Regions from separate parts of the Homo sapiens genome. Here all the other regions are linked to region 2. The links come from fine-mapping of genetic effects on gene expression. A gene starts in region 2. Each other region holds a variant in brackets. All regions are shown on one strand. Distances are between the middles of the regions. Region 1 has its middle 1.5 kb from the start of BDKRB1. Region 2 holds the start of BDKRB2 (bradykinin receptor B2). Region 3 has its middle 36 kb from the start of BDKRB2.

Region 1 (2,500 bases), 50 kb before region 2:
AAGACCTGTATGTTGGCAAACACGCCCTAAAAACATGTTTTGACATCGCCAACTTGCCCCAAGGCTCGCAAAGTGTCAGTGAACATTGAGGGATGGCTTTTGGCCCCTTCACTATTGGCTTCTGAATGTCTGGGGCTCTGCAGCAGCTTTTGTGGGAGCCACTTCGAATGGCCTCTTTTGAATTTTGGTCATGAAAGATACATCGCCAAGAATCCATCAGAGTGGACCCATCACACAAACAGAGAGCTAGGAAAACGTTTGACTCATGCAATGTTCAGAGTTGAGTAAGACCAGATACATTTTTTCCTAATCCTCCTTGGCGTCTCTCAAATTATGTCTGCATGGGTCAAGTTGAACTACTCAAGACCTCATGTTTCAGACAGTAAGATATTTTTGGCTTTGAGAATCAGGTGACAAGATTCTCCAACTGAAGGCCCCTTACCTGTCAACTTACAAATTAAGATCTTTCCAGGCCACCCCCTACACGTAGGAGAACTCATTCATGCCAGAATTCAGGACTTCGAGTCTGACTTCTGGAAAGGTGACCCTCCAAATGTTTGGAGCAGAAGGTGTCACCTCTGTCTTTAGAATCTTGCCTTTTGCTTGTGTTCCCTTTTTCTGCTAGTGACATCTCAGCGGGAGCCAACTGCACTTCAAGTTTTCCTGCTGTCTTCTCCTGTTGCTGAAGACCTTAAAACTGTGGAAGTAGGTGGAACAAATAGCATTCTGAGGCTCAGTAGCGGATGTACATTTCAGGGAAGAAGCTGGAATTTGCCTTAGAGGATAGGATGGTCCCCTCCTATCAGGAGAGACCTCCTGGGTGGGATTTTTAATAAAAAAAAATTGTCAACAGGCAAGCATCTTCCATTACTCCCGGGATAGATCTGAACCGGAGGAAGGCTCCAAATCTTAGCCTTTCCTGTTACTTAGTAATGTAGGCGGGGGTCTCTCCAGCCCGTGGCTGGCTTATTCTCC[C/A]TTCAGTATGAGTTTAGACTATACTGTTTCTGAGAAGCGTTTGTTCTTAGGAGATGTCTCCCTGTTTATTCACCCAGGAGTGCGTATAAGGCCAGCTCTGCCACAAAGAGCACGTGCAGGTCTCATCTCTGCTTTGCCTCTTGCTGGAAGACAGTCTGTGAAGAGAGCTGGCCTGAGTGAGCTGGACTTCGGAGATGCATCTGGCTGCCTTGCCAAGGTGGTGGAGGGCGGAAAGGAAAGTTCTTTAAGAAGACCCACGTTTCCCCTTGTTGCTCATCTCCACGGGAAATGCGAGACAGGCCCGGGCTCAGGGGAGCAGAGGGTCTCCTACTGTCTCTGGGGCCAAGGGAGTGGGGCTGAGGGCAGGGGGAGGGGACCCCAAATCTGTGAAAGAAAAGCAGGTCCCTATAGTGTGGCAGAAGATAGCAGGGGACTAAGAAGTGGGTAGGCACTGAGGACCCTCTTCTGAGGCTTCGCTTGCCTTTTTTCTTTTTTTTTTGAGACTGAGTTTCGCTCTTGTTGCTCAGGCTGGAGTGCAATGGAGCGATCTCGGCTCACTGCAACCTTCGCCTCCTGGGTTCAAGCGATTCTCCTGCCTCAGCCTCCCGAGTAGCTGGGATTACAGGCACACACCACCACACCCAGCTAATTTTGTATTTTTAGTAGAGACGGGGTTTCTCCATGTTGGTTAGGCTGGTCTCAAACTCCCGACCTCAGGTGATCCACCCACCTTGGCCTCCCAAAGTGCTGGGATTACAGGCGTGAGACACCGTGCCCGGCCAATGCTTGCCTTTTCTGAATTTAGTTGTTTGTAATTCCCACAGCCTCTATAAGGTTTGGTTAAACCTTACAGTCTGATGTGTGCTGTGCTTGATGAAGTCCCCTGGGTACTTGGGTGAAGAGGTGGTCACAGAGGATAAAGGCCTGCCTCTGGAAATAGAGGACAGGCCAACCTTCCCTGGGGTGTCCTAAATACTAGTGAGGGGGCACTCCAGGCAGGCTGGACTCCCTGTAGTATGCGTGGGCTTGGGCCATACTGGATGTGTATTCAAGGGAAGGTGAGCTCTGGAGTTTGCAGCCCCTGGGGACATGCAGTCCCAGTGCCCACTGTGACATCAAGGGCCACTTTTCAGTTCTCTCATCCATCAGTCCTGGAGTTTTTTTCTCCTTTACTTTTCTAGTCATATCCAGCAGGTTCTTCAAAATGAAAGACTCTAGTACATGTCACCCAGCAGACCTCTACAAATAGCACCCAGATGCTGAGCCTCTCCAGGGTTCGTTCTTAGTCCTTACACGACATCTGATGTCTCCAGTATTCTCCCAATTGTAGACGGAGGACAGAAAGCCACAGCTGGGCAGAATTCTTGCCAGGATGAAATGCAGCACCCTCACTGTGGTCCAGCTCGTGTCCTTTCACCCCCGACCAAGGCTGTTGGCGGTCACACCTTTCTTCCCATCACAGGGTTTAGAAACTCATGCAACGTACATACAAGTCTGCAACAAAGGACTGTAAACCAATCTCCTG
Region 2 (2,843 bases):
CTGTGGAATGTCTCTTGCTGCTGCCAGGGCCCGAAGGACGCAGCACAGTTTTTTCTCCAGAGAACCTCGGGCAGGGCCTCTTTGCAATGTCCTCTGGGGTTGCTTACCTGTTCCCCCACCACCTAAGCCCTTCTCCAACTCAGAAATGGAATTAGGGGCGGGGTTGGCCAGGGAGGCCCCCATCACCCCACACCCAGGCCAGGGCTCCCACTTCCTGTAGGCTGGGGAGCCACAGGCGGCCTGTGACTCAGTGAGGCACATTCTGACCTGCCTGGAACAGCAACACCTGCTGTTCACCTCCACCCAGGCTGCGGAAACGACCTACTCTCAGCAACTCGAATCACGGCTGCCATTTATTTAGTGCCTATGACATACGTGGTGCTTCACAGGCAAGAGCCTACCTCTATCTTTGCATAAAGAGGAACTTCCAGGTCTTCTTTATAGCTCAGGAGACAGGACAAAATAACTCGCCCAAAAACGTCACCCACAGGGTGAGAGCAGGGCTGGAGCTGCAACCTGGGCCGGATGCAAAGCCGGTGCTTGGAACCCCTGCACCATCCTATCCCCCTGCCCTGGTCAGCCAGGACCGTGGGAAGAGGGTCTCTAAGCCCATCTGAGGTAGTCACTACCACCTGCCTCCTGGAGGCGCATCAGCCAACATTCACAAACCCCCCCACCCCCGCCTGCTTCTGATTTAACCCTGCCACCCCCAGGGAGCCAGCGAGCTGGCTGCTTTGCAGACAGAGAAACTGAGGCTCAGAGAGGTTGAATAGCTTGTCCAGGGTCACACAGGGCCAAGGAGTGGCACAGCTGTGGGTGAAAAGCCAGGTTCTGGAGCCTCCACCCAGCACCCGTCCCTGCTGCACCACACACACCTCGCTGCCTTACTCCAAGGTGTCCACTCAAAGTATGTGAAAATCCAATCACGAAATCCCTCACACACTGGACACACACAAGCCTGTCTGTCACCTTGATTCAGAGAAGAGAAACCTACAACAGACAAACAGGGCGATTCCTCCTGCTGGGAACCCTTCTCCCCATCGCCTGTCAGACCTCCCCTCCGGAAGGAAGGGAACTTTTCCCAACTCCCCACGACCACAGGGAAACTTCTCCCCGCTGCCTGCCCTCCCTCCCTCCCTCTGTGCTGGGACAGTTTGTCCTCCCAGCAGAGGTGAGGCGGCTGGAGCAGCCCCTGCCCGGCACCCACCTTCTCCGGAGCAAGCGGCATGGGCACTTCAGTCGCTCCCTGGTACTGCGGGGCAGCCTGATGTCCCCACCGTCCCCACCGTCCCCACCCCTCCTCGGAGCCCAGAAGCCAGAGCTGGAGTGGCGGCGGGAACAGCTCATCTTTCAAGGGCTGGGTAGTGATGTCATCAGCCTCCTGGGCACTTCCCCCTCCGCCTCCAGCTGAGCTCTGCACTCCTGCCCAGCTGGAGCCAGGCTGGCTGTGGGGCCGGGAAGGCTGCGGCCACCTTCGCTCTCCGCTCTGCCACCCTCTGAGCCCTGGGGGCCAGGGAGGCTCTTGGAAGATTTCCATGTTTGCGTAGCCCGGCTGCCCGTTGGAGTCGTGGGACGGCAAAAACGTCCCTCCCGGCTGACCACAAAGTGGCCTGGGAAGCCCCATGTGAATAAATTTGCCTCGCGTAACATTTATTTCTTATCATTATTTATCTTCTTGAGGTGGTTATTTTGTGTCTGAGTTTTGGATGTAAACAGTGGGCGTTTACGCGGAAGGTGTAAACAGAGGGTGGCCAGGTGGGCAGGCGGAGTCCTGGGATTTCTTTGTATGCCACGTACGGCTCCCAAGGGCGACAGTGGCAGAAGCTGTCCTGTTTCCTGGGTACGGGTGTTTGCGCTCCCCTGAGACACGCGGCCGTTTCTTCGGAGATGTATGGCGGAGGTTTCTCCCATGTCAAGGCTCAGGCTGGCTTTCTCAGTTTTGCTCAAAGACTTACTAACTATCTGCAGCACTTTACACTCCCAGGGCTGAGACGGTAGGAGCTGGAAAGGGCAGGGACTTTCAAAACATTTTTTTTTGAAGCCTTAAAACCCTTCCTTCAGAAGAGAACAGATAAGAGTGGGCCCAGTGGATCTGGGGAAGAGACAGGAGGGCCAGAGGACGTCCCCCCAGCCCATCAGCTCCTCTTCCCTGTGACTTGATTCATAACAAGCCTACAAACCAGCAATCAAGCCTGATCCCATCATCATGGAGACAGGGAAACAGAGTCTCAGATCAGTTTATGGGTGGCCTGGGCGCTAGCCCTGGCTTGGCTGTGAACTGGCTGTAGGCTCTTGAGTGAAGGCCCTCCCTGGCCTGGCTGTGTGGTTGACTCATCTGTGCACCTGGCTGTTCAACCACATTGGGGCTCCTTAATCTGGAGTTTCCTGACTTGCCAGTTGGGGACAGAGGTCTATGGACAGGCTGCCCAGAGTCCACAAGCCCTCTGAAAAGGTGTGTCTGTGCTTTATCCCCTATGGAGCCTCATCTATAGCTTTCACTAAAATATTGAAGAGCTCTGAGATCCACAACATATTGAGACCTGCATGAGCGTCCAGAGACCCTCTGAAGTCTCTTCCAACTTAGATATTGTAGAGCTCTGTATCTATGAGTTGAAAATCCTCAAGGATCTGAATCCAATGTTGATGCTTCTGTAAATATCATTGACAGAAATCTCTAAAAGACATCTGTCCATCTGCACACATCTCCATCCATCTCTGTCATATAGTTTTTTAAAAAGGCTACTTTAAACCAGTTTTGAGGTCCTGGCTGGAGGCCAGCCAGTTCATGAGCAGCTGATTAAGTTCACATTCTGGCCCTTTCTCTTACCAGGTTCTCACACTCT
Region 3 (2,843 bases), 36 kb after region 2:
CAAGTTTAGGAGGCCTGGGAGAGAACCCACTGCCCACAGATTGGGAGATAGTGGGGTGGCTGGACATCGGGAGTTCTAGGAGGCAAGGGAAGAATTAGGTTAGGGCTGGAGTGTAAAGGGACGTCAGTGTCAGCTTGAGGAATCTGGATGTCTTTAATAAGCAATGGAGAGGAACTGCGGATTTGAGAACAGGGAAGCCACATGCTCTGTGCTTTGGAAAGATTGATAGTGGCAGGGTGGGAGTGGACAGCAGCCAGTCACCCCACTGTGCCTCGCAGACAGCAGGGTTAGAGGGGGCTGCACTGGGGCATAATCTTGGCAAGAAAAAGAAAAGTGGATTTCAAGAAACTGAGTAGTTAGACTGCATGGGACTCAGAGGCTGGGTAAATGTAGGAAGTGGGTGTGGCAGGCACAGGCAGCTGATTGCTGATCCAATATCCATTCTTCTCTTTCTTCCCAGCAGAAACTCAGCTTTGTTCAGGGAAGCAATGTGATTAGTTACTGCTCACCTTCCTAGGTGCCTTGCAATTAAAGGTGGTCAAGTAGCCCAGTTGTGACGATGCAACGTAAACAGAAATCCACCAGGCAAAGCTGCTGTTTCCTATATAAAAGGGAAAAATTCAGGTGACATAAACCTTTCTTCCTGCTTGGAAAGTTGTTGCAATGTCTGGAGGTAGAGCATCTCTCTTGTGATCATGAGGAAGAGAGTTTTGAGGTAAGGAGGGTGGAACAGGATATAATGAGGAAGCTGAGCTCTTAGTGGCTTTCTCACACAGGTGCAAAGCTCCAGACTGCCTACCTCCAGATATTTTGCCACATAACACAGAGATCCCTCCTTGGTTAAGCCACTGGAGCTGGATTTCTGACGCATGGAGTTCAAGCCAATTCTACCACATACAGTGGGGATGAAGACCATGTGGAGGTTGATGCTATCAGCTAAAATTCGGAACCCTGGAAGGGTAACAGGTTTGGAAGGATCAGAGTGGCAGGAAAAGAGCCTGCCACCTAGAGCCGGGATGGCCTGTGGCCAACTGGGGCCCTAGGAAAATCCTTTACCCTACTTGGTCTCTGCTTCCTGATCTGTGAAATGGAATTTTAAAGCTCAATTTTTGAGAAAACCAGAAACAACAAGTTCATCTGATACATGCTATGGGTCCCCAGCAATTTACGGATTTTTTTTTTTTTTGAGATGGAGTCTTGCTCTGTCACCCAGGCTGGAGCGCAGTGGCATGATCTTGGCTCACTGCAACCTCCGCCTCCTGTTTCAAGCGATTCTCCTGCCTCAGCCTCCTGAGTAGCTGGGACTACAGGTGCGTGCACCACACCTGGCTAATTTTTT[G/TG]TATTTTTTAGTAGAGACAGGGTTTTACAAGGATGGTCTCGATCTGACCTCATGATCCACCTAGCTCGGTCTCCCAAAGTGCTGGGATTACGAGCATGAGCCACCGTGCCTGGCTGATCTTTTTTTTTTTTTTTTTTTTTTGAGATGGAGTTTCATTCTTGTTGCCCAGGCTGGAGTGCAATGATGCGAACTTGGCTCACTGCAAACTCTGCCTCCTGGTTCAAGTGATTCTCCCATCTCAGCCTCCAGAATAGCTGGGATTACAGGCATGCGCCACCACGCCCAGCTAATTTTGTATTTTTAGTAGAGATGGGGTTTCTCCATGTTAGTCAGGCTGGTCTTGAACTCCTGACCTCAGGTGATCCACCTACCTCGGCCTCCCAAAGTGCTGGGATTATAGGCATGAGCCACCGCCCCCGGCCATGGATTTATTTTTGTAGTGCCAGGAGAGAGGAACCCAGCCTTGCTGAGGGATTGATGGCAGTCGAAGATCAGAGAAAACAGCATGAGACAGGTGCTGAAAACTGTGGCTCCCCGGGGTTCAGCCCAAAGGGTCCTTCAGCTTCCCATGAGATGAGGACACCATTTAGTTGATGGTGAGGCCCATGAGGGCTCCCCTGGTGGGGCTGGCAGTAGCCCGCCCACCTCTTCTTCTTGGCCAGCACAAGGATGTTGAATGTGGAATGACATACAGACCAGACACAAAGATGGCTAAATGTGGGGTGGTCAGATGTTTGTAGCTCATCCTCCATATTACATTCCGTGCAGCTACATAAACTCCAAACAGCAAATAAACAGAGCTGCTGGTAATGTGTTTATAATGGCTATTAAGAAGGGAGGTGACTTCTACTCGGGGATTCCACAGGGTGACTCAGCTCTTGTTTACCTCCCTCTGGTCATGGACTGCTCATTAGCAACTGGAAGACTGTGGAGAGGCAGCTGAATGTTTTGGAGCCAGTGTCTTACAGGACCAAGATCTCAGAAGTCAGGGAATCCAAGGGCCAGAGGGACACTGAAACCATCTAGACCCTCACCCATGGGAGCTTGATCACCCTTCTCAGTTTCCTGCCAAGCTGGGGCCCAGCCCACCTCCCTACCTCCAGGGATGAGGACCTCACTGCCTCTTAGAACACCCATCTCACTGAGCCCTTGAGCACCCTGTGAGCAGGCTGCAGGTCTTAGTCAACTTGTACCCTCAGAGCCTGGCACAATGTCAGACTCCAGAAGTGTCCATCCAGTTCTCTTCCACCCAACGCCAATTTTTGTTGAGGCTTGAGCGAGGTGGTGGGGTGTCTGAGATGATTAGCATGCAGTACCTGGCCTTGAGGATCCCAGAGACTGAACAGGGAGGCAGGGAAGTGAACTGGCCATGATGACATGGTGTGGTGGGTGGCCCAGTGGCAGTCATAGGCACAATGCAAGTGGGCACTCACAGAGGGACTCTGACCTGGCACTAGGGGGTGGCCAGGTGTGTGGGCATGTGTGATAGAGAGACTTTCATGAC

What was found. PIP is the estimated chance that this variant, and not a neighbour inherited with it, causes the effect. A credible set is the group of variants that fine-mapping cannot tell apart.
Region 1: its variant is the best candidate, but not a certain one, in a credible set for the expression of BDKRB2 in esophagus mucosa (GTEx, PIP 0.76).
Region 3: its variant is the best candidate, but not a certain one, in a credible set for the expression of BDKRB2 in fibroblasts (GTEx, PIP 0.53).

The regions. Positions count from the first base shown.
Region 1 is chr14:96,253,493-96,255,992 of GRCh38, reverse strand. No RefSeq gene overlaps it. Among named protein-coding and RNA genes, the nearest start is that of BDKRB1, 1.5 kb to the left of the region's middle. RefSeq lists an enhancer at 2,288-2,500. The variant C/A (reference allele first, on the strand shown) is at 976.
Region 2 is chr14:96,203,324-96,206,166 of GRCh38, reverse strand. BDKRB2 (bradykinin receptor B2) reads right to left here and starts at 1,328. Exons shown (of 3, transcript NM_001379692.1): 1 at 1,208-1,328. RefSeq lists an enhancer at 992-1,867.
Region 3 is chr14:96,166,947-96,169,789 of GRCh38, reverse strand. No RefSeq gene overlaps it. Among named protein-coding and RNA genes, the nearest start is that of BDKRB2, 36 kb to the left of the region's middle. The variant G/TG (reference allele first, on the strand shown) is at 1,340.